Regions from separate parts of the Homo sapiens genome. Here regions 1 and 2 are each linked to region 3. Evidence: fine-mapped expression QTL. A gene starts in region 3. Each other region holds a variant in brackets. All regions are shown on one strand. Distances are from middle to middle.

What was found. PIP is the estimated chance that this variant, and not a neighbour inherited with it, causes the effect.
Region 1: its variant is fine-mapped to the expression of SIVA1 in monocytes after LPS (Quach 2016, PIP 0.91).
Region 2: its variant is fine-mapped to the expression of SIVA1 in tibial nerve (GTEx, PIP above 0.99).

Annotation. Positions count from the first base shown.
Region 1 is chr14:104,954,759-104,962,932 of GRCh38, forward strand. It overlaps AHNAK2 (AHNAK nucleoprotein 2), which reads right to left. Exons shown (of 7, transcript NM_138420.4): 2 at 2,856-2,914; 3 at 2,652-2,750; 4 at 1,830-1,931; 5 at 725-875; 6 at 199-383; 7 at 1-41. Among named protein-coding and RNA genes, the nearest start is that of AHNAK2, 20 kb to the right of the region's middle. RefSeq lists an enhancer at 2,270-2,439 and a cis regulatory region at 2,355. The variant T/C (reference allele first, on the strand shown) is at 3,687.
Region 2 is chr14:104,434,878-104,443,051 of GRCh38, forward strand. No RefSeq gene overlaps it. Among named protein-coding and RNA genes, the nearest start is that of C14orf180, 140 kb to the right of the region's middle. RefSeq lists enhancers at 111-976, 6,152-6,934. The variant C/G (reference allele first, on the strand shown) is at 3,184.
Region 3 is chr14:104,749,136-104,757,309 of GRCh38, forward strand. It overlaps SIVA1 (SIVA1 apoptosis inducing factor), which reads left to right and starts at 4,012. Exons shown (of 4, transcript NM_006427.4): 1 at 4,012-4,184; 2 at 6,495-6,689; 3 at 7,469-7,625. The coding sequence starts at 4,067. LOC107987209 (a long non-coding RNA gene) reads right to left here. Exons shown (of 3, transcript XR_001750915.3): 2 at 7,271-8,174. RefSeq lists enhancers at 3,038-3,127, 3,831-4,332, 3,978-4,027, 4,038-4,107 and a silencer at 3,508-3,877.

The DNA.
Region 1 (8,174 bases), 210 kb after region 3:
TTCGTGGGGGTCTCTCTGCACCCATCAGCAACATCCGTGTCCTGAAACATAGGGAGAGGGAATCTGTTGGTGCCAGTCCAAGAAGCCTGGGGCCCTGGCCCAGGGACAGATGGAGTGGGAGTGCTATCCCCTCCCAGGCTCAGCCAGCAGGGTAGTGAAGCCAGCTGGGGCCCTGCCCCCCGGGCATAGTGGTCTCACCTCCTTCTCCTTGCCCTGTGGGCCGTGCTGGGCATCGCTGGAAGCCCACTCTTCATCCTGTGGGGCAGGGAGCTGCCGTCTGATTTTGAACTGAACCTTGTACGGCTCTGAATATTGAAGGATTTTGAGAGCATCTTCATATTTTATGTTTTCAAAGAACACGGTTGTACTGAGCAGCTGATCCCCTAGACCAAGAAAGAGCAGCCCCAGGGCCGGGTGTGTGAATGAGACGGGGTCTGCTGTCTTGCCTTGGCTGGCGAGGAGGGTCCCGGGGACATGAATAGGGGGAATCCCACTGAGTCTGCCCCACCAGTCCCCCACTGAGTGCCTCAGGCACAGGCAAGGTGGATGGGGTCCCCCATTTTACTAGATGCAGTGGGTGATCCCAGCCTCAAGCTGTTGAGCAGAGGCGTGAGGAGGTCATCCTAAGCTCCAGGTGTGGTTCTTACCCCTCAATACCCCCCTCCAGGTCCCTCCCATCCTGGTGGGGAGAATGGTGACCCCAGGGATGGAACTGCCATGGCACCTTCTCTCAAGTTAAAAAGCTTGGCGGCTGAGGAGTCCTTCAGCACTTGCTTGACGAAGATCCCCTGGTCCCCACCACCTGTGACACTGTAGCCACTGGCTCCTGCCTCCACCTCTGTCTTCAGCGTCACCTCTGTTGCCTCCTGGACAGCCTGGAGCAGAAGCACATCAGGGCCATGGTGAGCATGTGCCAGTCCCACCATAAGCATCCCTGCTGGGGCCTGTGTCTCCAGAGGATGGGCACCCCACCATCCTTTCCATCAGCCCAGACAACACAGAGCAGAGTAGGGTACCCACCAGGTGGGCTCAGGTAGCTGTCTCTGAGCTCTGGAGGAAGCCAGCTGGAACCTGCCAGAACTCTTGTCCCCACCCCAACCTGCCAGGACTTAGGCACAGCCTGTCCATGCCACCAGGCCCAGCAGGGCACCAGGAGCAGCGCAGAACGGATTCTGCTTTCCCTGTGGCCAGTTTCTCTTTTTCAGCTCCTTCATGCATTCTTCACAAACGCGTGAAGCACCAGTTGTGTGCAAGGCACCTGATGCTCAAGACAAGGAAGCACAGCAATGCCAAGGAAAATACGGGACATTGGGTGCAGCCTGCGAGACCTGGGACAGGATGGGGCCTGTGTCCTGCAGAGCTCTTGGACTGCTGGGGCCTCCAAGGAAAAAAACTAGTTGCTTAAGAGGCAGAGTGCCCTCATCATTGGGTGCTAGCAGAGTCTAGCACCTTCCATAGTTCCATGGCCTGGGTGCTGACTGGCCTTTTCAGCCCCACAGCTTGAATATGCAACAGACACCAGCACTGCCCCATTGCACGGAGGAGAAAATCGAGGTCTGTACAGCCAGGTCTACCTGGCCAGGAGCTTGGCTATGCATCAGACTCCACCCCAGGGAGGGGTGGAGAGGGCCAGGACCAGATGTAGCCTTCTGGAGCCCCTGCCCTTCCCCAGGCCTGACAAGGGGGACAAGAACACCCCTCCTCCCCAGGGCACGGGGCACACTGCCAGCCTCTTTGCTCCTCCCCTGCCTGCTCTGACCTCGGACTCTCTGGCTGGATCCCTTGAGGACCGACACACCTCTGTGACCCTCAGCTCCTGCTGTACCCACCTCTGGACGACTCATCCTGAAAAATGTCCGTGAGTCCCCTGAATCTCGCTTCCACCAGGATCTCCGTCTCCCAGCAGAACCTTGCCTGCCGGGGGCGTCTTCCTGCAGCCACAAGTGTTGGGAGTTAGGCACCTGCCCCAGCTCAGGGACAGGGAGGGGCACAGGTAGGCTGGTGCCAGACCAGGAGCCCTCCCTTCAGAGGGGCCCAGAACTTCCAACACACAGCTGTGTGCAGAGGCAGCCGAGTTCCTCCAGGCACATCCACAGAGAAAAGGCAACTCTCGGCCTTCCTGCTTCCCGACAGGGCCCAGCCTACAGCCCACAGCACCCACCCTACAGCCCACAGCGCCCATAGGGAAGCCCCACAGCAACTGGAGTTTTGTATGGAGGGAGATAAGAAATTCAAATTGTACAAAAATGAATCCTTTCATAGACATGCCTCCTCTGATCCCTTCCCCGAGTCCTTGTCTCCAGAGGTAGCCATGGGGCCCTGTCCCCAAAGACAGCATGAGTGTGTTACACAGGTGCAGGGATGCACACACCCTGTGCCCCTGAAACACAAACACAGTAACATGAGGCCTGTCCCCATCAGCCCATACGCATGCTCACAAGAGCTGCAGGGCACCTCCATCCCACTGTGCCCTGGCCGGCCACAGGGAGGGACCCAAGGGCACAGAGGAGTCTGAGAGGACATCTGAGTGGGCACTGCCCAGTGGGCAGCGGGGCAGGGCAGCAAGGTTGAACAGACATGCGTGAGTTGCCCACACAGGGCGATGCAGGAGGAGACCTGGGTGCCTGTGGGGCTCTGCCCAGCAGGCTCACCTGGAGTCCAAAGTCGGCAGCCTCAGTCGTGTATTCGTAGACAGGTGAAGACCCCTGCGGCCGTGGTCGAATGCCCTCATCCGCAGGCCCTTCAGTCACCTGACGGGAGAGAATCCAGTTATTTTTGCCACTCGGTTCTCCCAGGGCCCAGGGAGAATGGGGGCAGGGTATGAGGAGGACACACTTCCTCCTGCTCTCACTTACAGAGTGGTCATCTTCCGTTTCTGCACCTGGCTCCCCGGGCTGCAGCTGACGGCCGGACACTGCAGAGAGAGTGGCTGTCAGTGGAGACAAGCAGGCTGGGGGAGCAGATCGGGGCCCGGGGGAGGGAGCCAGGACTGTATGTACACTGTGGAGGTGTCATAGTCCTTTCCTGGACACTGGATCGGAGAGCAAACTCAGGGGCTGGGGGAAGATCTATAGCCAATGGGCTGGAGAGGCTGAGGCATCACGTCAGGTAGCAGTGAATTGAGACTGGACTTATTCCAAGTTGGAACAGATTTAGTCCAAGAAAGTGACTAAACAAACACAAGGCGTTTGTTATTGTATAACCACACCCTGGGAGGATCAGAATCCAGAGCTGCCAGAATATATTATCTAAAATGTCCAGCAGCCACCAAAAAATTACAAGTTACGCGAAGAAACAAGAATGTATGGTCCATACTGAGAAACAAAGCAGTGAATGGAAAGTGTCTCTAAATGTCTACTAATGCTGGGTTTAATACAGACTTCAAAGAAACTATTAAAAGTTTGTTCAGGCCGGGCACGGTGGCTCATGCCTGTAATCCCAGGACTTTGGGAGGCTGAGGCGGGTGGATCACCTGAGGTTGGGAGTTCGAGACCAGCCTCACCAACATGGAGAAACCCCATCTCTACTAAAAATACAAAATTAGCCAGGCATGGTGGCACATGCCTGTAATCCCAGCTACTCAGGAGGCTGAGGTAGGAGAATCACTTGAACCTGGGAGGCGGAGGTTGTGGTGAGCCGAGATTGTGCCATTGTACTCCAGCCTGGGCAACAAGAGTGAAACTCCG[T/C]CTCAAAAAGAAAAAAAAAAGTTTGTTCAAAACACAAAAACAAATCATGTTTAAAAAATTAATGGAAAATATGTTAACAATGGCTCAATGAAGAGAGAATCTCATAAAGAAATAAAACTTATTTTTTAAAAGCAAGCAAAAATTCTGGAGTTGAAAATTTACTACTGGGGTTCACCAACAGATTTGAGATACCAGAAGAATTATCAACTTGTAGATTAATATAAATTAACCAATTTGAAGAACGGGGTCAGGGGGAAGATTGTTTGAAGAAAAACAGAGTCTCAGAGCATTAACCATAAGATAAAGAGGCAGAAGAGAGAGTTGAAGAAGTGATAGCTGAAAACAATCTGCAGAATCCAAGAAGCGCGACCAGACCTAAGCAGGAGAAACACAGAGATCCACACCTAGAAACGTCACAGTCAAAATGCTTAAGAGAAAGGGCCCCATCACATAATAAGGGCACAAAAATACAACTAACACCTGAATCACATCAAAACCATAGAAGCTACGAGAAAGTGGAACAATATATTCAAAGGGCTGAAAGAAACTGTTGTCAACGAAGAATTTGATATCAAGCAACCTATCCTTCCAAAAATAAAGGCAAAATAGTCTGGGCATGCTGGCTTATGCCTGTAATCCCAGCACTTTGGGAGGCTGAAGTGCGAGGATTGCTTGAGCCCAGAAACTCAAGGCCAGCCTGAGCAATATAGTAAGATCTCATCTCTACAAAAAAAAATTTTTTTTTTGAGACGGAGTCTCACTCTGTCACCCAGGATGAAGTGCAGTGGCACGATCTTGGTTCACTGCAACCTCCGCCTCCCAGGTTCAAGTGATTCTTCTGCCTCAGCCTCCCGAGTAGCTGGGACTACAGACACGCGCTACCATGCCCAGCTAATTTTCGTACGTTTAGGAGAGACGGGTTTCACCATGTCGGCCAGGCTGGTCTTGAACTCTTGACCTCGTGATCCGCCTGCCTCAGCCTCCCAAAGTGCTGGGATTACAGGCATGAGCTGCCGTGTCCGGCCCAAAAATTTTTTTAAAAATTAGCGGGGCATGGTGGTGCATGCCTATAGTCCCAGCTGCTCAGGAGGCTGAGGCGGGAGGATAGCTTAAGCCTGAGAGGTTGAGGCTGCAGTGAGCTGTGATTGCACCACTTCACTCTAGTCAGGCAGAGCAAGACTCTGTCTCAAAAAAATAAAAATTTAAATTTTAAAAAAAGGAAAAATAAAGGCATTCCCAAATGAACAAAGACTTGGAAATGTCATTGCTAGCAAATCTGCCTTACAAGATATACTAAAGAAGTCCTTCGGACTGAAAGGAACTAATACCAGACACTAAGTCAAATGCACAGGAAGAAATGGAGAATGCAGAAAATGGTAACTATGCAGGCAAATATAAAAGACTCTATGAATATATATTGTCCTCATTTTATTTCTTAACTTCTTTCAAAAACAGAGGATTGTATAAAGCAAGGATTGACAAACTTTTCTTGAAAAAGGCAATATAGTGGATATTTTAAGCTTACCAGGCCACATGATCTCTGTTGCAACTCTGCAGCCATAGTACAAAAGCAGCTATAGATTATAGATAATATGTAAATAAATGAGCAAAACTGTTTCAACAAAACTTTACTTGTAAAACAAAAAGGAGGCTGGATTTAGAAGACAGACAATCATCTGTGAACCACTTATATAAGGCAACAATTCTAACACCATATTGTTAGGATTATAACATATATAGATACAGTATATACGTGACAATAATAGCAAAAAGGAGTAGGAGGAGAGGGTATACAGTCAGCCTCTCATATCAGTGGTTTCTGTATCCTGAGTTCAATGAAACTTGGGTCAAAAATGTTCTCCCAAAAATTGCACCTGTACTGAACACGTGTAGACTTTTTTTCTTGTCATTATTCCCTAAACAATATAGTATACCAGCTATTTACATAGCATTTACATTGCATTAGGTATTATAAGTAATCTAGAGATGATTTAAAGTATAGGGGAGGGAAGATGTATGTAGGTTATTTGCAAATACTACATTGCTTTATAGAAGGGACTTGAGCATCCATGAATTTTGGTATCTGAGGGAGGTCCTAGAAGCAATCCCTCATGGATGCTGAGGCACAAGTGTACCCTGGACCAAAGTTTCTATAATTTACCAGAATTAAGCTGGCATTGCCTGGGGCTGGGAGTGGGAAGGGAGATTGATTGTAAATGGGGTTGAGAAAATTTGGAAGGTGATGGAGGTCTTCCAGAACTGGATTGTGGTAATGTTTGCACAACTCTATAAGGTTAGTAAAATGATTGAATTGTACATTTACAATGGGTGAGTTCTATGGTTTATAAACTGTACCTCAATGAAACTGTAAAAGAAAAAGGTAATTAACTGTATAAAACAAAAATAAGTCAGCACGGTGGCTCACACCTGTAATCCCAGCACTTTGGGAGGCCAAGGAGGGCAGATCACTTGAGGCCAGGAGTTTGAGACCAGCCTGGCCAACATGGTGAAACCCCTCTCTACTAAAAATACAAACATTAGCTGGGCAGGGTGGTGCACGTCTGTAATCCCAGCTACTCAAGAAGCAGAGGCAGGAGAATCACTTGAACCCAGGAGGTGGAGGTTGCAGTGAGCTGAGATTGTTCCACTGCACTCCAGCCTTGGTAACAGACCAAGACTCTGTCTCCAAAAAAAAAAACAAATAAAATAAAATGTATCTTAGAATTTTACAAATATAGAAGTAAAGCATATGACAGGATGGGGATGGAGTGCAAAAGTTGCTGTTGTGGGCCGGGCACGGTGGCTCACGCCTGTAATCCCAGCACTTTGGGAGGCCGAGGCGGGCGGATCACGAGGTCAGGAGATCAAAACCATCCTGGCTAACACAGTGAAACCCCGTCTCTACTAAAAATACAAAAAAATAGCCGGGCGAGGTGGCGGGCGCCTGTAGTCCCAGCTACTCGGGAGGCTGAGGCAGGAGAATGGCGTGAACCCCGGGGGGCGGAGCCTGCAGTGAGCCGAGATCGCGTCACTGCACTCCAGCCTGGGTGACAGCGAGACCCCATCTTAAAAAAAAAAAAAAAGTTGCTGTTGTGAAGATCTTACATTATACTTAAAGTAGGACAATCTTACTTGAAATTATACTGTAATAAGTTAAATATTCAGGGTATAAAGCATAATGCAACCATTAAAAAAATAAAAAGATGTATAGGTAATAAGCCAATAGTGGAACCAAAATGGAATGCTAGGCTGGGCACAGTGGCTTGTGCCGTAATCCCAGCACTTTAGGAGACCGAGGCAGGAGGAACACTTGAGGCCAGGAGTTTGAGACTAGCCTGGGCAACACAGTGAGACCTCATCTTTAGAAAATATTTAAAAATTAGCCATGCATGGTGGCGCACATCTGTATTCCCAGCTACTCGGGAGGCTGAGGTGGGAGGATCACTTGAGCCCAGGAGGTTAAAGCTGCAGTGAGCCAAGCTCATGCCACTGCACTCCAGCCGGGGCAGCAAAGCAAGACCCTGTCTCAAAAAACAAACAAACCAAAAAACACCTAGATCTCCTTTTTGAAACACTGCAGTAAAAACTGGCAAAACTGAAAGGAGAAATAAATCCACAATTATTATACAATAGGAGATTCTAACACTCTTAGGAAATGATAACCTTACAAAGTAGAATAGGGGAAGATACAAAACACTTGAAGTACCCATCAACCAACGAGACCAAACTGGCACTGGGAGAACACTCCTGACAGCAGCCGGTGCATGCTGCTCTCAGGTGCACAGGGGACAGTCACTGAGACAGGCCCCATGCTGGCTCAGAAACCTGTCTTGACGAATTTAAAATAACTTCAGTCATCCGAGTTCTCTTCTCTGACCCCCAGTGGAATCAAGACAGTGCGGCAGAAACACAAATCAGTGAACAGAAAACAAAGTCCAGAACAGCCCCACACTTACATGGCCAATTCATTCTTGTTTGTTGGTTGGTTGGTTTTGTTTTGAGACAGGGTCTCACTCTGTCGCTCAGGCTGGAATGCAGTGGCACAATCTCAGCTCACAGCAACTTCTGCCTCCTGGGTTCAAGCGTTTCTGGTGCCTCATCCTCCCAAGTAGCTGGGATTACAGGCATGCGCCATCATGCCTCACTAATTTTTTTTTTTTTTGGTACTTTTAGTAGAGATGGGGTTTCACCATGTTGCCCAGGCTGGTCTTGAACTCCTGGCCTCAAGTGATCCACCTGCCTTGGCCTCCCAAAGTACAGGCGTGAGCCACCATGCCCGGCCAAATTCTTGTCAAAGCAGCCCAGTTATTCCAACAGAAAGCAAAGTCTTTTCACCGAATGGTCCTGGAACAGCTGGGTATTTACTGGGAAACCAATAAACCTGGACCCTTCCATCCCATCACTCATGAAAATGAATTTGAAATGAATCATAGAGGGGAATGTAAAACCAAAAACTATAAAACTTCTAGAAGAAAATATAGGAGAACT
Region 2 (8,174 bases), 310 kb before region 3:
AGGGCAATGCCCAGGAGCAACGTAAGGAGGCCCCCAGGGTGCAAGGGAGGGCCAGGGGCAGGGCAGGAGGTGGGAGTCTTGGCCAGGAACATGCTGTAGGGCTAGGAACTACCCGGAAAAGGGTGAGTCTCAGGGGCTTGGACCCCCTCCCGGAGCAGAGGACTCCAGGGTCCCCAGCTGTGTGCCCTTCACTGTGAGGCAGTGTGAGTGCTGGCCCACTCACGACATGCCCAGACCTGCAGAATGGGAAAGGCCTTCCTGGTAACGGGGCCTCCAAGAGCAGGCAGGTGGCCTGTGAGCGGCATTTCCAAACATCAGACTTCGCAGGGCTGACTTGATGGCTACCAGCAAGCAAGTCCCACCATGGTTCCTGTGGGGCAGTCGGGGTGCTCAGGGAGGTGGGCTCCAGGCAGGGGACCTGGCCCAGCCTCACTGTGACCCCCGGAGGCCCAGCAAGGGGTGACTAGTGGGCACAGTGCCTTGGAGTGGGAGGAGGAGAAACCCTAAAATGAGGCCCACGCCCCACAGCCGAGTGGCTCCCTGGAGCCAGCCCTGGCCCCGTCGTGCCCCAAGAAGGCCTGGCTGGCCAGGGCCTAGGGCTCCTGTGGGGTTGCCAGCACCACAGGGTCAGTACAGGCTGTCATCAGGCAGTCCAGCCACCCTGAGGGCAGGTGCTGGGGAAGGACCCTGTCCCACTCCCTCCATCACCTGTGCTGGGGCCACTGGCAGTCATAGGAGAGCAGAGCAGGCCCAAGGTAGGCGCCAGACATGGCGCCCTTGCAGCCAGCGTGTCCACGCCCATCCTCAAGCCGAGCCTGGTCACCAGCAGTGAGAAGGGAGGGTAGGCCCACGGCCCTGGCTCCCCTAAAGTCCTGTTTCCACGGAACGATGGCCCAGCATCTACTCCTCCCCAGGACCCCCGCTAACTGGGAAGGGTCAGCCCCTGCCCTTTGCACTCTACCCCCAAGACATGCGGCCTCCTTGACCTCTCTATGCTCAAGCAAGTCTTGCCAGAACTAGGAAAATCTGCCCCAAGCTATGATCCCAGCTGGTGCAGATGGTCCCAGGCTGTGGTGGGCCCTGTTCTATTCCTCCCAACAACCCTGCAGTCCATCCCACAAATCGGGACAATGCGCTGGGACAGCTGACATTCCAGAGGTGTCCAGGGACGCACAGTGAATCCGTGTCCACTGGGGAGCGCCCACTAGGAGGGAGGAAGCCCAGGAGAGTGGGCGCTCGCAGGAAGCCCTCTGGCCTGGCCCGGTAGTCCTGGCGGGCTTCCAGGGGGAGGTGGAGCTGAGCCTCCTGCAGATGGGCGGAGCTGAGGGAGGCAGGCCTGGGGCAGTCGGGGTGAAGGCTCCAGGACTGCCAGGGCAGGAAACCACACAGGATGTTATGGAGAAGCAGGACGGCAGCAAGGGTGTACAGCTGGGCCTGGTCACTCTGCCAAGCCCCTAGCCCGGCGGCTGCCTCCCCGCAGTGGCCTGTTTTCTCCGCGGCCATGCCAGGAGACGTGCCGGGGGCTGACCGTAAGCTTCCCCCAGGAACTGCTGACACAAGCTCCTCCCACTGCATGCCTGTGTCTGGCTGGCCAAGCTCTGTCCCAGGACTTCCCTCCCACCAGGGCCCTGTTCCCATTCCCACCACAGGACCAAGGGGCCCTACTTAGCCTCCAGCCTCCCGGGCACCCCCTGGTCCTTACTGCAGCTGCGCTGGTGTCATTCTCCGTCCTGTGGGGTGAGCTCCAGCATGGCCGTGCGTGCTCTGCTGGGCAGTGCCAGGCCCGTCTCCACTGGCCTCAGACACGGCAAGGCTGGACCCCTACCCAGGGTCAGAGCTTAGGTGTGGGAAGGAGGGCGATGGAGCAGATAATGAGTCAATCAGACCTGGAGACGCTGGGGGCTGGTGAAGCACCAGGCAAGGAGTTTGGGGCTGCCCCTGGTACAGGAGCCGTATGGTCCTCACCCCACACCCCAGGGAGTCACCCAGCCAGGGCCAGGGGAGAGGCAGGTGACTGCCGTGTGCGGACTCTGCACTGGCTACTACACTGCCTGTGGGGCTGGAATGGGGGCTCCCAGAAAGGGGCTGGACTCCAGCCCCTGGAGGACAGGGTGTTAGGCAGCCAGCAGTGGGTGAACCCAAGGGCCAGGCCAGCACAGCACGGGGGCAGGGTGAGGGTCCCAGGTTGTGGCTCAGCCTGACGGGCCTTGCTGTGTAAGCTGCTCTCAGAGAGGGAGGTGGCTGGTCTCTTTCTTCCCTTGTGGAGATGCAGCCAGACAGGGGCCAGAGGCCCAATGAATTAATTATGGAGGGAAGGCAGCCCTGCTCTGAGCAGCGGGGCTCTGGATGAGGCGGTGGCTCCAGCTGCTGCAGGGCCCTGAAAGCACACTGCCCACCTCTGCCGGCCCCACCCAGCTGCAGGAGGCCCAGCCCCACCTGCCCTGGAAGCCTTCCAGGACTGTCAGGCAGGGGGATCTCCTGTAAGCGCCCACTCTCCTGGGCCTCTCCCCTCTGACAGGGCACTCCTGGGGCAGGTATCGCAGAGGGGGAGTTCCTGGGCCCTGGCCAGCTGCTCAGTGGGCAGCTGTGGGCCCTTCACTGGCTTCAGGTTCCTCTGAGCTGGTGCCCTCCCGCCTGCCTGTGGGTGGTGACACTGGGCTGGGACACATGAGTCCTCCCCACACTGGCCCCAGGGCACAATCAATACCCAGTGAGCCTTTCATTACCTGGCTGTTAATTATTCAGCGCTCACTGGGAAGGCCACATGCCACATCCGTGCCCTCACCCCGCCCCACCCCATGGGAACACAACAGAAAGTGCCTGGGAGTGGGCAGGGAGGAGACGCTAAGCACACAGTGAGGAGACCACCCCTGGAAGCCCCCAGACCACAGCAGAGAGAAAGAGAGAGACAGAAAGAAGTCTTCCCTGGTGGGTGAGAGCCCAGGCTGTTCTTCCAAGGGCAGGAGGGAGGGAGGCAGGGAAGGAGGAAGGAAGGGGGGCCTGACCACCCAGGCCAGCCCCGGGGGCCAGCTCCACTGGCATCACAGCACTTAATTTGCACACAGCGCAGGAGGTGAGGCCTGCCTGTCTGCTCCCTCCAGGCCCAAGGTCACAGTGAAGGGACGCAGGGGATCCAGGGCAGTTGGATGCCCCGCAGGTGGGGGATGAAGACTTGGCCAAGCC[C/G]CCTCAAGCGCCAAGCTCTTTTACTAGGCAGTGTCTAAAAGCCCCTTGTGAGTGTCCCACCAGCCACATCCATTCTGTATCCTCTAAGAAAGCAAAGCAAAGGAAAGAAAGAGGGGAGGGGAGGGCAGGGGCAGGTCCTGAGGGCTGCAGGCCCCCGGGTCCCAGGTGAGTTTGTGGGTCAGCTCTCAGAGGTGTGAACACAGCCTTGGTGGGGCACCCAGATGCAGACTCTGGCCTCAGACCAGCCCCCACCTTGTTTGCGTCCCCCAAGTCAAGTAGCCGTCCCCCTGGCATGGGCCATCCCATGGCAAAGGGGTTGCAGGGAGGAGGTGTCCCTGTGGCCTGTGTCGGGGGTACACGCCAGCACAGAGGCTGAGCAGCCCAAGCCACCAGCTCCAGATGCTACAGGTGGAGTTTGGATGTCGAAGCCCGAATCCCCAGTACACAGAACGTGATCTTATTTAGAAATAGGGTCACTGCAGATGTGATTAGAAAAATGAGGCCACCCTGCAGCAGGGCAGGCCCCTCATCGGACATGACAGTTGTCCTTATAAAAAGAAGGAATTTGGATACAAACACGTGCACAGGGCAAACACCGAGGGGGTGAGAGCAAGGGTCGGGGTGATGTTTCCACAAGCCGTGGACCCCAGAGACGGCCAGCAACCTCCAGAAACGAGGCAAGAGCTGTGGAACAAGTTCTCCCTCACAGCCCCGGAAGGACCCAGCCCTGTCAATGCCTGGATCCTGGACTTTCTGCCTTCAAAACATTGCGGGAAAAAATCTCTGTTGTTTAAGCCACCCACGATCTGGTACAGGCAAATCTCAGAGATATTGTGGGTTCCATTCCAGACCACTGCAATAAAGTGAGTTTTACAATACGGTGAGTCACATGAATTTTTTGGTTTCCCGGTACATATAAAAGTGACATTTTCACTGTACTGTAGTCTATTCAGTGTGCAATAGCATCGTCTAAAAAACAATGTACTTACCTTAATTAAAATACACTTCATTGCCAAACAATGCTAACGACCATCTGTGCCTTCAGTGAATCATCTTTTGCTGGTGAGGGTCTTGCCTCCATGTTGATGGCTGCTGTCTGATGGAGGTGGTGGGTGCTGAAGGCTGGGGTGGCTGTGGCAATTTCTTAGGACAACAGTGAAGCTGGCCTCATCAATAGACTTTTCCTTTCCTGAAAGATTTTGCTGTAGCGTGCGATTCTGTTGACAGCATTTTATCCACAGTAGTTCTTCTTTCAGCAGTGGAGTCAATTTTCCCAATCCTTGCCACTGCTCCATCAACTAAGTTTTGATGGAATATTCTAAATCCTTTGTTGTCATTTCAACAGTGTTCACTTTCTTTTCTCATCCGTAAAAAGCAACTCTTCATCCATTCGAGTTTCTTCATGAGACTGCAGCAATTCAGTCACATCCTCAGGCTCCACTTCTAATTCTAGTTCTCTTGCTATTTCCACCACATGTGCAGTTCCTGCTTCCCTGAAGTCTTGAACCCTCAAAGTCATCCATGCGAGTTGGAATCCATTTCTTCTAAATTCCTGTCAATGTTGATATCTCAACCTCCTCCCATTCTTCACGGCTTCTAGAATGGAGAATCCTTTCTGAAGATTTTCCATTGACTTTGCCTAGATCCATCAGAGAAATCACTGTCTATGGCAGTTACAGCCTTACAACATGTATTTCTTAAATAGTAAGACTTGAAAGTTGAAATGACTCCCTGATGCGTGGGCGGCCTGATGGATGTCGTGTGAGCAGCCATGAAAACAACGTTCGTCTCCTGCGAGTCTCCAGCAGAGCTCTTGGGTGACCAGGTCATGTCAATGAGCAGTCATATTTTGAAAGGAACCTTTTTTTTTTCTGAGCAGTAGGTATCAACGGTGAGCTTAAAATATTCAGCCAATCGTGCTGTAAACAGATGTGCTGTCATCCAGGCTTTGTTGTTCCATTTTCAGAACACAGACAGTCGACTTTGCGTAATTCTTAAGGGCCCTAGGATTTCAGGAATGGTAAATCAGCACTGGCTTCAACTTAAAGTCACCAGCTGCCTTCACTCCTAACAAGAGAGGCAGCCTGTCCTTTGAAGCTTTGAGGCCAGGCATCGACTTCTCCTCTCTAGCTATGAAAGTCCTAGATGGCATCTTCTTCCAATGGAAGGCTGTGTCTTCCACGTTGAAAATCTGTTGTTTAGTGTAGCCACCTTCGTCGATGATCCAAGCTGGATCTTCTGGATAACTCGCTGCAGCTTCTCCGTCAGCACTTGCCGCTTCACCCTGCACTTTCATGTTCTGGGGACACACATTAAGCCTCACGAACCGACCTCTGCCAGCTTCCAGCTTTTCTTCTGCAGCTTCCTCATCCCTGTCAGCCTTCACAGAACTGAGAATCAGGGCCTCGCTGGGGGTGAGGCTTTGGCTTAAGGGGAGTGTGATGGCTGCTTGGATCTATCCAGACCACTCGAGCTGTCTCCACATCAGCATTTTTAAAATTTTTAAAATTTCCTTATAGAACTTTTCCTTGGCATTCACAACTTGGCCAACCGGCACCAGATGCCCAGCTCCCAGCTTTCGGCCTGCATGGGGTCTCCACCTGCCTTCCTCACAGAGGTGAATCACTTCTAGCTTTTGATTTAAAGTGAGAGATGTGGCATGGTTCATGGTTTCCCCAGTTACACTAGTAACATCGAAGATCACTGACCACAGATCACCATAACATACAGTAATGATGCAAAAGCGTGCGATGTTGTGAGAATTACCAAAGTGTGACACAGAGATGTGACATGAGCAACGTGCTGTTAGAACAACAGCTCTGATTGACTTGTTCAACACAGGGCTGCCACAAACCCTCAATTTGTTAAAAAAAAAGTACAGTATCTGCAACGTGCAATAAAGTGAAGAGGAATAAAACAAGGTGTGCCTACACCTGGGTACGGCAGCCTAGGACACTAATGCCACAGACGTGGGAACTGAATGGTGGGGTTTCGAGTAGTGTTTTCTGGGATTTGTACCACCAACCCATCCCTTTCTGATTATACAAGGCTTCAGTGACAGATGGGGAAACTGAGGCATTGAGATTGGAAGAGATTCACCCACAACACCCACAAATCCATGGTGGGGCTGAGCCAGAGTCCCTAGCTCCCCTACCCCTGCCCATTCCCTATTCCGGGCCCTGTCCTTCCTTCCAGCTGCAACACAAAGGTGGTGTCCACCTTATTGATGGAGGGGCTGAGTCCCAGAGTCACCTGGTGCCTGCACAGAGGGAGACGGAGCTGGACCCCTGCCGGGGGTGGAGGCCCTGGACAACGGGCACAAGTGAGGCTCCAGACAGCATGGGAGACAGCCCAGTGGATGGTGGGTCAGGGAGGCTTCCTGGGGGAGGGTGCTCCAAGGGGCTGGAGGATGGACATGGTTTAGCAAACCTCGCTGGGGCAGAGACAGGAAGGACACGGGTGAGTTGGGAGCTGAGCAGGCAGGCACTGGGCATGGGGCAGCAGCTGGAGACGGAGGGCTCAGGGCTCACTGGCACCAGGATGCCTCAGCTGGAGAGGAACAGCCAGCAGGATGGTAGGCCAGGAGGACAGCAGGACAGCAGTGGCCACACCACGTGGCCCACCGTCTGCTGGATGCCTGGGTGGTACACAGGCTTCCACTCCGCGGTGAATGCCCAAGGCCCTTTTATTCATGTTCGTAATTACAGAATGCAGGGCGCATTATCCACAATTTGCTTCACATGAAAAAGCAGGACCATTTGCTGAAGCCCTTCCCCGTGAAGCTCAGCACGCTGCTATCAATGAACCCGGAATCCTCTCCCGGCTGGCAAATGGAATCTTTTCTGCTCCTGACAAAGAGGAATGTCCTCAAGGTGAATCTTTTCATTCCTGCTCCTTTCAGCCAGCAATTTTGGTGGCTGACAGATTCTTCTGTGAGAAATGGCGATTTGATAAAATGCAAAGTGGATGCTATCGAGCTCACGGGCTTTTCAGAGGAGTTGGGAGCCATGGCCCTGGGCTCCTTTCCGCCCTCCATCCGCCTCCTCTTGCTCCTCCAAGCCCAGCCTGTGCATCCTGGAAAGCCAGGAGCAGGACTCCAGCCCCAGCCGCCACAGCAGGCAGCAGCTGACCACTTCGAAGCTACCCGCCCCGACCCCACGAGGCCACACAGCCTCCCTCACCGGCTGGGCCTGGCTGAGACCCCGGACTTGGAGCAGGAGCAGACCTCAGCCAGTGCCCAGGAACTGCTAGGTGAGGCCTGCACTGGGCAGCAACACCCCCTCACGAGGCACAGGAGCAGGACCTGGGCCTGGGCAGGGCTGGGGGGCAGACACCTCTGTCCACAGCACATACGGCTTCTCCCGGCCACCCCGGGGTCCGTCGGAGAACCTGGGATCACGCAGGGCCCAGAACACGGCCAGCCAAGCCTCCTCCGAGCCCTCCTGGGAGTGCCCCCACCCTTACACCGGGCACGAGGCGACCAGAGTTTCAGGCCAGGGCTATGGAATGCTGTGGAGTCAGGCGAGTCTTGGGAGCAGGGATGAACACAAGCCTTCCAACCATGTGGCTTTGGGCAAGTGATCTCTCAGAACTTCTGTTTTCTCCTCCATAAAACTTGCATGGGTTTATCTGCCGCTCCCAGCCAACCACATGGCCAGCTCTGTGCTCCAGAAGCATCTGAAAACAGCAGTGGGATGAGGGAATGAAAGAGCAAATGAGTGAATGACGGGGAGCAGCCATGGTGAGGGATGAGAGCCTGGCCTGCCCTTCCCCCACTGACCCCAGGACAGGATGGAACTAGCCGTGGAAGGTGGATTTGGGAAGACCCAGCTGTAGGGGCCTGGCAAGGGCTCTTCCGGCAGTATCCGCACGGGTGAGGGAGTGTGGATGGTTGTCATTCAGGAATTACTCAGACTGCAGGGTGAGGGATCACAGGCAGCTCTGGGACCCTTCCACAGAGGTGGTGCCTAATCACTGGGCTGAGGCTGTGA
Region 3 (8,174 bases):
TCGAAATCACACCCCACAGGAAATGCACTTGAGTAACAACACCCTGGACCTGAATACAGATTTGGTGCACAGGCCGCTGGCTCGCTCCCCACCATCTGGCTGGGCCTGCCTGTTCCCCGTGGCTCCCCCTCCCCACTGGCCTGTGAGGAACGCTGCCTCCTCGCTCCCGCCCGGTTGAGTCACACACCTGCTCTGCAGTTTCATGTGTTCTGCTGTGCTGCCTCCTCCAGCTCTCACCTGACCCTTGCACCCAAACCTCACTCTCCTGGTCAGGACTCTCCCAGAGAGACCATCATGATAGGAATGAACTGATCACTGCTCAGACAAAAGCCACAGGCTGCCTGCCAAAGCCTAGAAGCAAGCTGCTGGTGAGAGGAATGCCAGCACAGCTGGATACACAGGCCTGAGGCCATCAGCCAGGGTCAGGAGGCATCCCACGAGAGCACACACTGTAACCCCATGCCCACCGCCCCCAGAGCCCCATCAGGGAAGGGCCAAAGTTTACAGCCACTCTCCAGGAGAGACCTCAAGACGAATTAGAGGAAAACTATGACAATGATTTTGTTTAATGATAATTTTCCTTTTTCCTAGCACTCTGGAAAGCTGCCAGTTTCTTTACAAGTTAACCATCAATCTGATGCAGGGCAGGTGAGCCCCAAAATTGGGGCTTAACCCTGGAGGGTTCATGGCTTCACCCAGGAAGGCATTCAAGGGTGAGCCAGTGGTGTTAGCCAGGCAAGTTTGTTAAAGCAGCAGAATCCTACCCAGCAACCTCTGAGGAACCGGCATGTGGCCTGGGGGACAGCCCCACTCCATAAGCTGCCCGATGTTCTGTATCTGTCCACGATGGTGATGAGACCCTAGGAGAGTTGCAAGTCTGAACACAGGGAAATCTTTAGAAATCCCCACGATCCATAAGATTGAAAACAATCCTCCTCTCTGAGAACTTCATCTATTTCTGGGATAAACCAAATCTGTGTTTAGTCACACGTGACTCCAACTGAGTAACTTTCAAGTCATTTCCCTAAGGCAGAAAAAATTCTCCATTATGCCAGCAAAGTGGCAAGGAAGAGCCAAGAATGCTTGATCCCATCCCCACCACAGGGAACCCTGCACGGCAGGAGGAGAAAGGACATCTAAGCTGGAGACTGGTAAGGTTTCAGCCACCCATGGCTAGGAAAGCATACACTGCCTCTGAGGGGGCGTGGGCAGCTGCAACACGGGAGTCACGTGGGAGGGGTTTGCGGGACTCCAGGCATCACCTCTTCACACCGGAGGCAACACCGATGGAGTCGTGAGAACATAGTCCAGGTGTGTCCAGAATTGGTGGGTTCTTGATCTCACTGACTTTAAGAATGAAGCACTAGGTCCTCACAGTTGACTGTTACAGTTCTTAAAATTGTTATGTCTGCAGTTTGTTCCTTCTGATGTTTGGACGTGTTTGGAGTTTGTTCCTTCTGGCAGACTCACGGTCTTGCTGGCTTCAGGAGTGGAGCTGCAGACCTTCACAAGGAGTGTTACAGCTCTTAAGGCAGTGTGTCTGGAGCTGTTCATTCCTCCCGGTGGGTTTGTGGCTTTGCTGGCCTCAGAAGTGAAGCTACACACCTTCCCAGTGAGTGTTACAGCTCATAAAAAGTGTGGACCCAAAGAGTGAAAGAGCAAAGCCCCAAACATGTGGCAGAACACCAACACGTTCCCACTGCCTGCTCGGGCGGCCTGCTTTTATTCCCTTATCTGGCCCCACCCATATCCTGCTGATTGGTCCATTTTACAGAGGGCTGGTCTGTTTTACAGAAAGCTGATTGGTCCGTCTTGACAGGGCGCTGATTGGTGTGTTTACAATCCCTGAGCTAGACACAGAAGTTCTCCAAGTCCCCACAGAGCACTGATTGGTGCATTTACAAACCTTGAGCTAGATACAGGGTGCTGATTGGTGTCTTTACAAACCTTGAGCTAGACACAGAGTGCTGATTGGTGTATTTACAGTCCCTTAGCTAGACATAAAGGTTCTCCAAGTCCCCACCAGATTAGCTAGATACAGAGTGCTGATTGGTACATTTACAAACCTTGAGCTAAACACAGAGTGCTGACTGGTGCGTCCACAATCCCACAGCTAGACATAAAGGTTCTCCAAATCCCCACCAGATTAGCTGGATACAGAGTGCCCATGGGTGCATCTACAAACCTTGAGCTAGACACAGGGTACCGATTGGTGAGTTTACAAACCTTGAGCTAAACACAGTGCTGATTGGTGTATTTACAATCCCTTAGCTTGACATAAAGGTTCTCCAAGTCGCCGCTAGACTCAGGAGCCCAGCTGGCTTCACCTAGTGGATCCCACACCGGGGCTGCAGGTGGAGCTGCCCGCCAGTCCCGCGCCGTGCGCCCGCACTCCTCAGCCCTTGGGCGGTCGATGGGACCGGGTGCCGCGGAGCAGGGGGCCGCGCAAGAGCCCACGGCAGGGGGGAGACTCAGGCATGGCGGGCTGCAGGTCCTGAGCCCTGCCTCGCGGGGAGGCAGCTGAGGCCCGGTGAGAATTCGAGCGCAGCGCCGGCGGGCCGGCACTGGTGGGGGACCCGGCGCATCCTCCGCAGCTGCTGGCCCGGGTGCTAAGCTCCTCACTGCCTGGGGCCGGTGGCTCCGATTGCGGGGCCCGCCGAGCCCACGCCCACCCGGAACTCACGCTGACCCGCAAGCGCCACGTGCAGCCCGGGTTCCCGCCCGCACCTCTCCCTCCACACCTCCCTGCAAGCTGAGGGAGCCGGCTCCGGCCGCGGCCAGCCCAGAGAGGGGCTCCCACAGTGCAGCGGCGGGCTGAAGGGCCCCTCGAGCGCGGCCAGAGTGGGCGCCGAGAGCGAGCGAGGGCTGCCAGCACGCTGTCATCTCTCACAGGGCGAAGCCCACGCCACAGGACGGGTCGGTTCTGTACCCGCCGGGGCAGGGGAGAGCCGCCTCTGGTGAGCAGAACCCCGGAGAAGGGACGACGCGGGTGCACCTCGCGGCATGGGGACACCAAGTCAGACGAACCCGCTGTGCAAGAACATTTTCCACACAGCGGCGCATACCCCCGCCCGGGGGCGCTCGGCAGCCGCACGCGGCCCTCAGAGCGCAGCCCCCACACGCCTTTACTTCTGGAAGGCGGAGACCGCCACAGTGAGGAGCTAAGCCAGCTGAGGCAACACAGAAAAACCCCCGTTCCTACCCAAAACCAAAAAGCGGGGCGCGGAGGCGCGCGCCTGCGGTCCCAGCTACCGGGGAGGCCGAGAAGGGAGGATCGCCTGAGCCCGGGAGGCGCAAGCTACAGTGAGCCGAGACTGCCACTGCACTCAGTCTGGGTGACAGAGCGAGACCCTGTCTCTAAAGGGGAAAAAAGAGCTAGGAAGAAGCGGGCTGCCTCTTAACTTCGGAGAAGTAAATGAGGAACTATAACCAGTGTCTACCGTTTAGGAACCAAACAAAAGCTGACAGGAATCCCGCCACCGACCCAGCCGCCCCAGACTTTGCCCTGGCCTATCCCGCGCCGCTCCTCAAACTAGACCCGCCCCGACGTCGCCCTGGCCTATCCCACGCCGATCCTCAAACGAGGCCCGCCCCCGATGCACAAGCTCCGCCCTCGTTGCACCGTCCTGACCCTCGGCCTCGCCCCCGCCCCCTGGCTCTTCCCGCGCAGCCGAATGCCGCGACCTGGCTCCCACCCTTCGTCGCTTCGCGCCGCATAGGAACCCCGCCCCTAGTCTCTCCTCCCGCCTATCCTGAGCGGCGCGCGCACAAATCTCTCCCACGGACCCGCCCACCCTGATCCTCAACCTGGCCCCTGGCCTTTCCCGCGGCGTCGAGTCCAGTACACCGACGCACGAGTCCCACCCCCGATCTCTCCCTCGGCCTATCCCGCGCCGCTCCGCGCAGGAGTCCCGCCTCCCACTTCGCCCGCAGCCTATGACGCGCCGCGTCGCTCCCTCTCCTCAAACCCGCTCTCGCCCGCGGATGGGCGCGCAGCTGTGACGTCACGGCGTCGTTGGTAAGGGGCTGGCGGCCGGGGAGCTGCGTAGCTCCCGGCCCCGCGGCCATGCCCAAGCGGAGCTGCCCCTTCGCGGACGTGGCCCCGCTACAGCTCAAGGTCCGCGTGAGCCAGAGGGAGTTGAGCCGCGGCGTGTGCGCCGAGCGCTACTCGCAGGAGGTCTTCGGTGAGTGTCGGGCGGGCTGCCGAGGGTCCGCTGCGTCGGGGCCTGGAACGGGCCGGGCCTCAGCGTCCCCTCTGAGGCCTGAGCGGGGGGCTGGAGGGCCCTGCTTTCTGGCCCCGCGTTCCCGGAAGCTGGGAGGCCGCGGGGACACAAGCTGGCCACGCCCAGGGCTGGGGTCAGTGAGGGGGATGTGAGGACCCCAGCGTTCGCCCACCCTGTCCAACAGCCTGAAAGAAAAGGGTCCCTGCCCCTAGCCCCCGCGCCCTCTTCCACGATCCCGGTTAGTCGCCGCCCTGCAGTGAGCGGCACCCGCCTGGTGCTTTCTCAGGACTGTCCCGTGCAGGATGTCCTGGGAGAGGTTGGGGAGCGGGGCGTCCTGCATGGAGTCAACCCGAAGAGTGCCCCTCCTGTCCCAAGAGGTATTCATGGAGCGCGCGGCCCTGCCAGGCACGGCGGCTTTCTCGGGAGACCAAAGGCAGGCAAGACAGATGTGCCCCGTCTCCCGGGAGCTCCCCAGCCTAGTTGGGGAGACCAGCAGGAGGAGTCGCCACAGGTGGTCGGGGCAGGCACAGGTTTGTGCAGGCGCACCTGCAGGGATGGCACGGAAGGCTTCTTGGAAGAACAGTCTGAGCGGAATCCTGTGGGGGCGAGTAGGAGTTAGCCAGGCAGAGGAAGGGAAGGAAGAGGGCGAGGCAGAAGCCAGGCAGCAGGAGAGCGAAATAGGACTCCGTGTGGCTGCAGTGTCCAGTTCTGGGTGGGATGTGAGGGCAGTGAGCTCCCAGGCCTTCTCTGGCTTTCTCCTGTGGATTTCAGGCGTGTTGATCTTATTGATCATCACTCTGACTGGGGTGATTAATACCCTGGGGCAGGTAAAAAGTGGAGCTTACCTTGCCTAGTGATTGGGACACAAAGTCTGCACCTGTAGAGCAGTTAGAGGATGACCCGGGGTGTGTGATTTACCTGGTGCCGCTTGTGCCTTGGGAATGAGGGAAAGACTCTGCCTCCCGAGGTTCCTCTGTGCGGTGTCTCCAGTGTGCTAGGGCTGTGAAAGCGAGTGCTATTCTGGGCCATGGGGAGGTAAGGGGAATGATGCCGTGGGAACTGTGGCAGGACCGCAATCGTGTGCCCTCTCAGGACAGTTGAAAAATTCAAACACTGTGCAGGCAAGAAGAGGAAGATGGAAATGGGGCCTGGCTCAGTATGGCCCTTTATTCTTCCCGAGTGTCCTGACCTGGGCGTTGGCAGGTGTGTGCCACTCACCGGGTCAGGTCAGGGAGGTCTGCTGGGTGCAGTGGGCCTTCCATGGTAAATGCAGGACACCTACTTTGAACTGTGTGACAGTTTCCAAATTCCAGGCCACAGCTGTTACCCTGATCTCTTAACCTCGAATTGTCCACAAGGCCTTGAGGACAAGGATTAGCCTCACCACGTGTCTGTCCCATTCCTTTCCCCTTATAGATGGGGGAAGGTGTGGGGGGCCAGGAGGAAGGTGCAGGGTGTTGTGGGCTGGCATCAGCTACTCCATGTGAGTTACCCTGTCACTATTATTGCTGCCCACTTCATGTAGAGCCACATAGAGTTTCTGGGATCTCTGCCTTTACTGTGTTATGGTGAGGTGCAAAACAAAAAACAAAGCATTTCTGGGTCTGGCCCTGGGCATCTGATTTTTCAAAGCTCCCCAGGTGACTGAACTGTGGCCTGATGGAAAACCACTGCTCCCAGGGATGGGTGGGTGTTCTAGAACAAGAGGTCTGGAAGGTTCTGGGATGCTTGTCTTGCCAGCAACTCTGTAGCAGGTGAAGGGGGTGTGCTCTGGCCAGAGGCTGTAGGCCCAGCTCCAAGCCTCTGGCTGCTTCCTTGGCAGGGGACGAGTTTTGTGAATTAGTGCTCCACAGTGCAGAGCTCCCTCTGTGCATTCCACAGAGCCTGGTTTCCAGGTGGGGAGTGCTGGGGAAGCAGAAAAGGGAGAAAGGGGACAAGCTTAGTGAGGCGAGGCCAGCCGTGAATTGCAGAAAATGAGCCGAGTGATAGGAGAGGGAACCCTTGCATCAGACACAGGTGGGGCTGCAGGGCCAGAGCCTTCCTGGAGGAGATGACAGCTAAGCCAGGTAAGGAAAGGACGCACAAGCATTCTCAGCATAGAGGCAGAGCAGGACCCAGCTCGCCAGGGCACAACACAGGCTGGGGTTACTGGGAGACAGAGGGCACACAGGAGGACGATGGGGTTCATGTGAGGCTAGAAAGACTCAATGGCCATGCAGGGGCTTCGTTGGTACACAGTGAAGGACGTGAGAATGATTTATCTTCCCCCAGAGAAGACCAAGCGACTCCTGTTCCTCGGGGCCCAGGCCTACCTGGACCACGTGTGGGATGAAGGCTGTGCCGTCGTTCACCTGCCAGAGTCCCCAAAGCCTGGCCCTACAGGGGCCCCGAGGGCTGCACGTGGGCAGATGCTGATTGGACCAGACGGCCGCCTGATCAGGAGCCTTGGGCAGGCCTCCGAAGCTGGTGAGTGGCACCAGCAGCCCTTTGTGGCTGTGGCACTGAGGGCAGGTGGTGGCACGAGCATTTTTCTTGATTTGCAAGGTCAGGCTTTTCCTCCCTGGGTAAGCAGGACTCTGACCCAGAGCTTGGCCTTCTGGCTCAGAAGGCTCCTGTTATCAGGAGGTCTCACATTCAAGACTGGAAGTTGTTAAACAGCTTCTAAGTACTGGGCCAAAAAAGCAGCAGAGACTCCCCGGGTATCCCGTCTGCTTTCCGCCTGCAGCCCCCTCAGATAGTCCCACAAGGCTGGAAACATGCCAGTCCCATCCCTATGCAGTGTGGGGTCTCAGAGCATCACCTGTGTTGCTGGTTAGAAATGCAATCCCCGACTCTACCTCAAGTCTGGTTGGTGTGTCTAGGAGGAGCCCAGGCACCTCTTTGTTAACCAGTAAGGCAGTGGGCCACACTGAGACCCAGATGGGACACATGGAGTTCTGACAAGCAACAGGGGAAGAATGGTCCTTCCAGCACTAGCCTCCAGGTAGCAGAGGGACCTGGTAAGGGAAAGAGCACTGAACTTGGAGTCAACTACAGGCATATCTCACCTTGGATCTCTGTAGTAAAACGGGGGTCCTGTGCACTGTACCAGGCTCACGGGTTGTCAGAAGGATCCAGTGTAGGTGGGGATGGGGTAGGCAGGTCAGAGCCCTCTGCCCTCAGGTATGCATGGAGGCAGGTAGCCCGGCAGTCCCGGAAACTCCAGTCTCCTTGCAGCCTGACGGCTTGGCGTTTCTTCCTCACAGACCCATCTGGGGTAGCGTCCATTGCCTGTTCCTCATGCGTGCGAGCCGTGGATGGGAAGGCGGTCTGCGGTCAGTGTGAGCGAGCCCTGTGCGGGCAGTGTGTGCGCACCTGCTGGGGCTGCGGCTCCGTGGCCTGTACCCTGTGTGGCCTCGTGGAGTAAGTACTTCAGTCCCTGGAGCTGCTGAGATCCCATAGCCCCAGCAAGCCGTGATGGGGGACGGGTGGGTCACCCATGTGGGCCCAGAACACACACGTGTGGCCCCTGATGCAGTGCCATCTGGCATTGCCTAACGGGACATGGTGGCAATAGATGCTTGGCCCAACTTTAGTGGTTAGTAATCCTCTCTAAGGGAAAGCTGAACCTCACAGATGACCTGCTCTGTATCCGGCTCTAGTCCCTGTCTTCAGCCACTTCCTGTTCTGATCTTTGAGCACCCCCACCTCCTCCTCCTCTGGTCTTTGAGCCCCCCCTCCCCCCGTCCGAGGAGCCCCTGGTTGGTGACACAGGTGCACACCGCAGCTTCACCACAGTCATGCGTGCCGTTTGGTTGTAGACCCTCTCAGGCAGGAAGTGGAGTGTTTGTGTAGTCTCCCATTTGTGGGTGGGTTTGCTGCAGCTGGCTGGATCCCGTCCTTACTCCTAAGGTGGGGAGGGGCGTTCTCACCCTAGGGGCTACTCACCTGGTGGATGGGAGTGGACAGTGT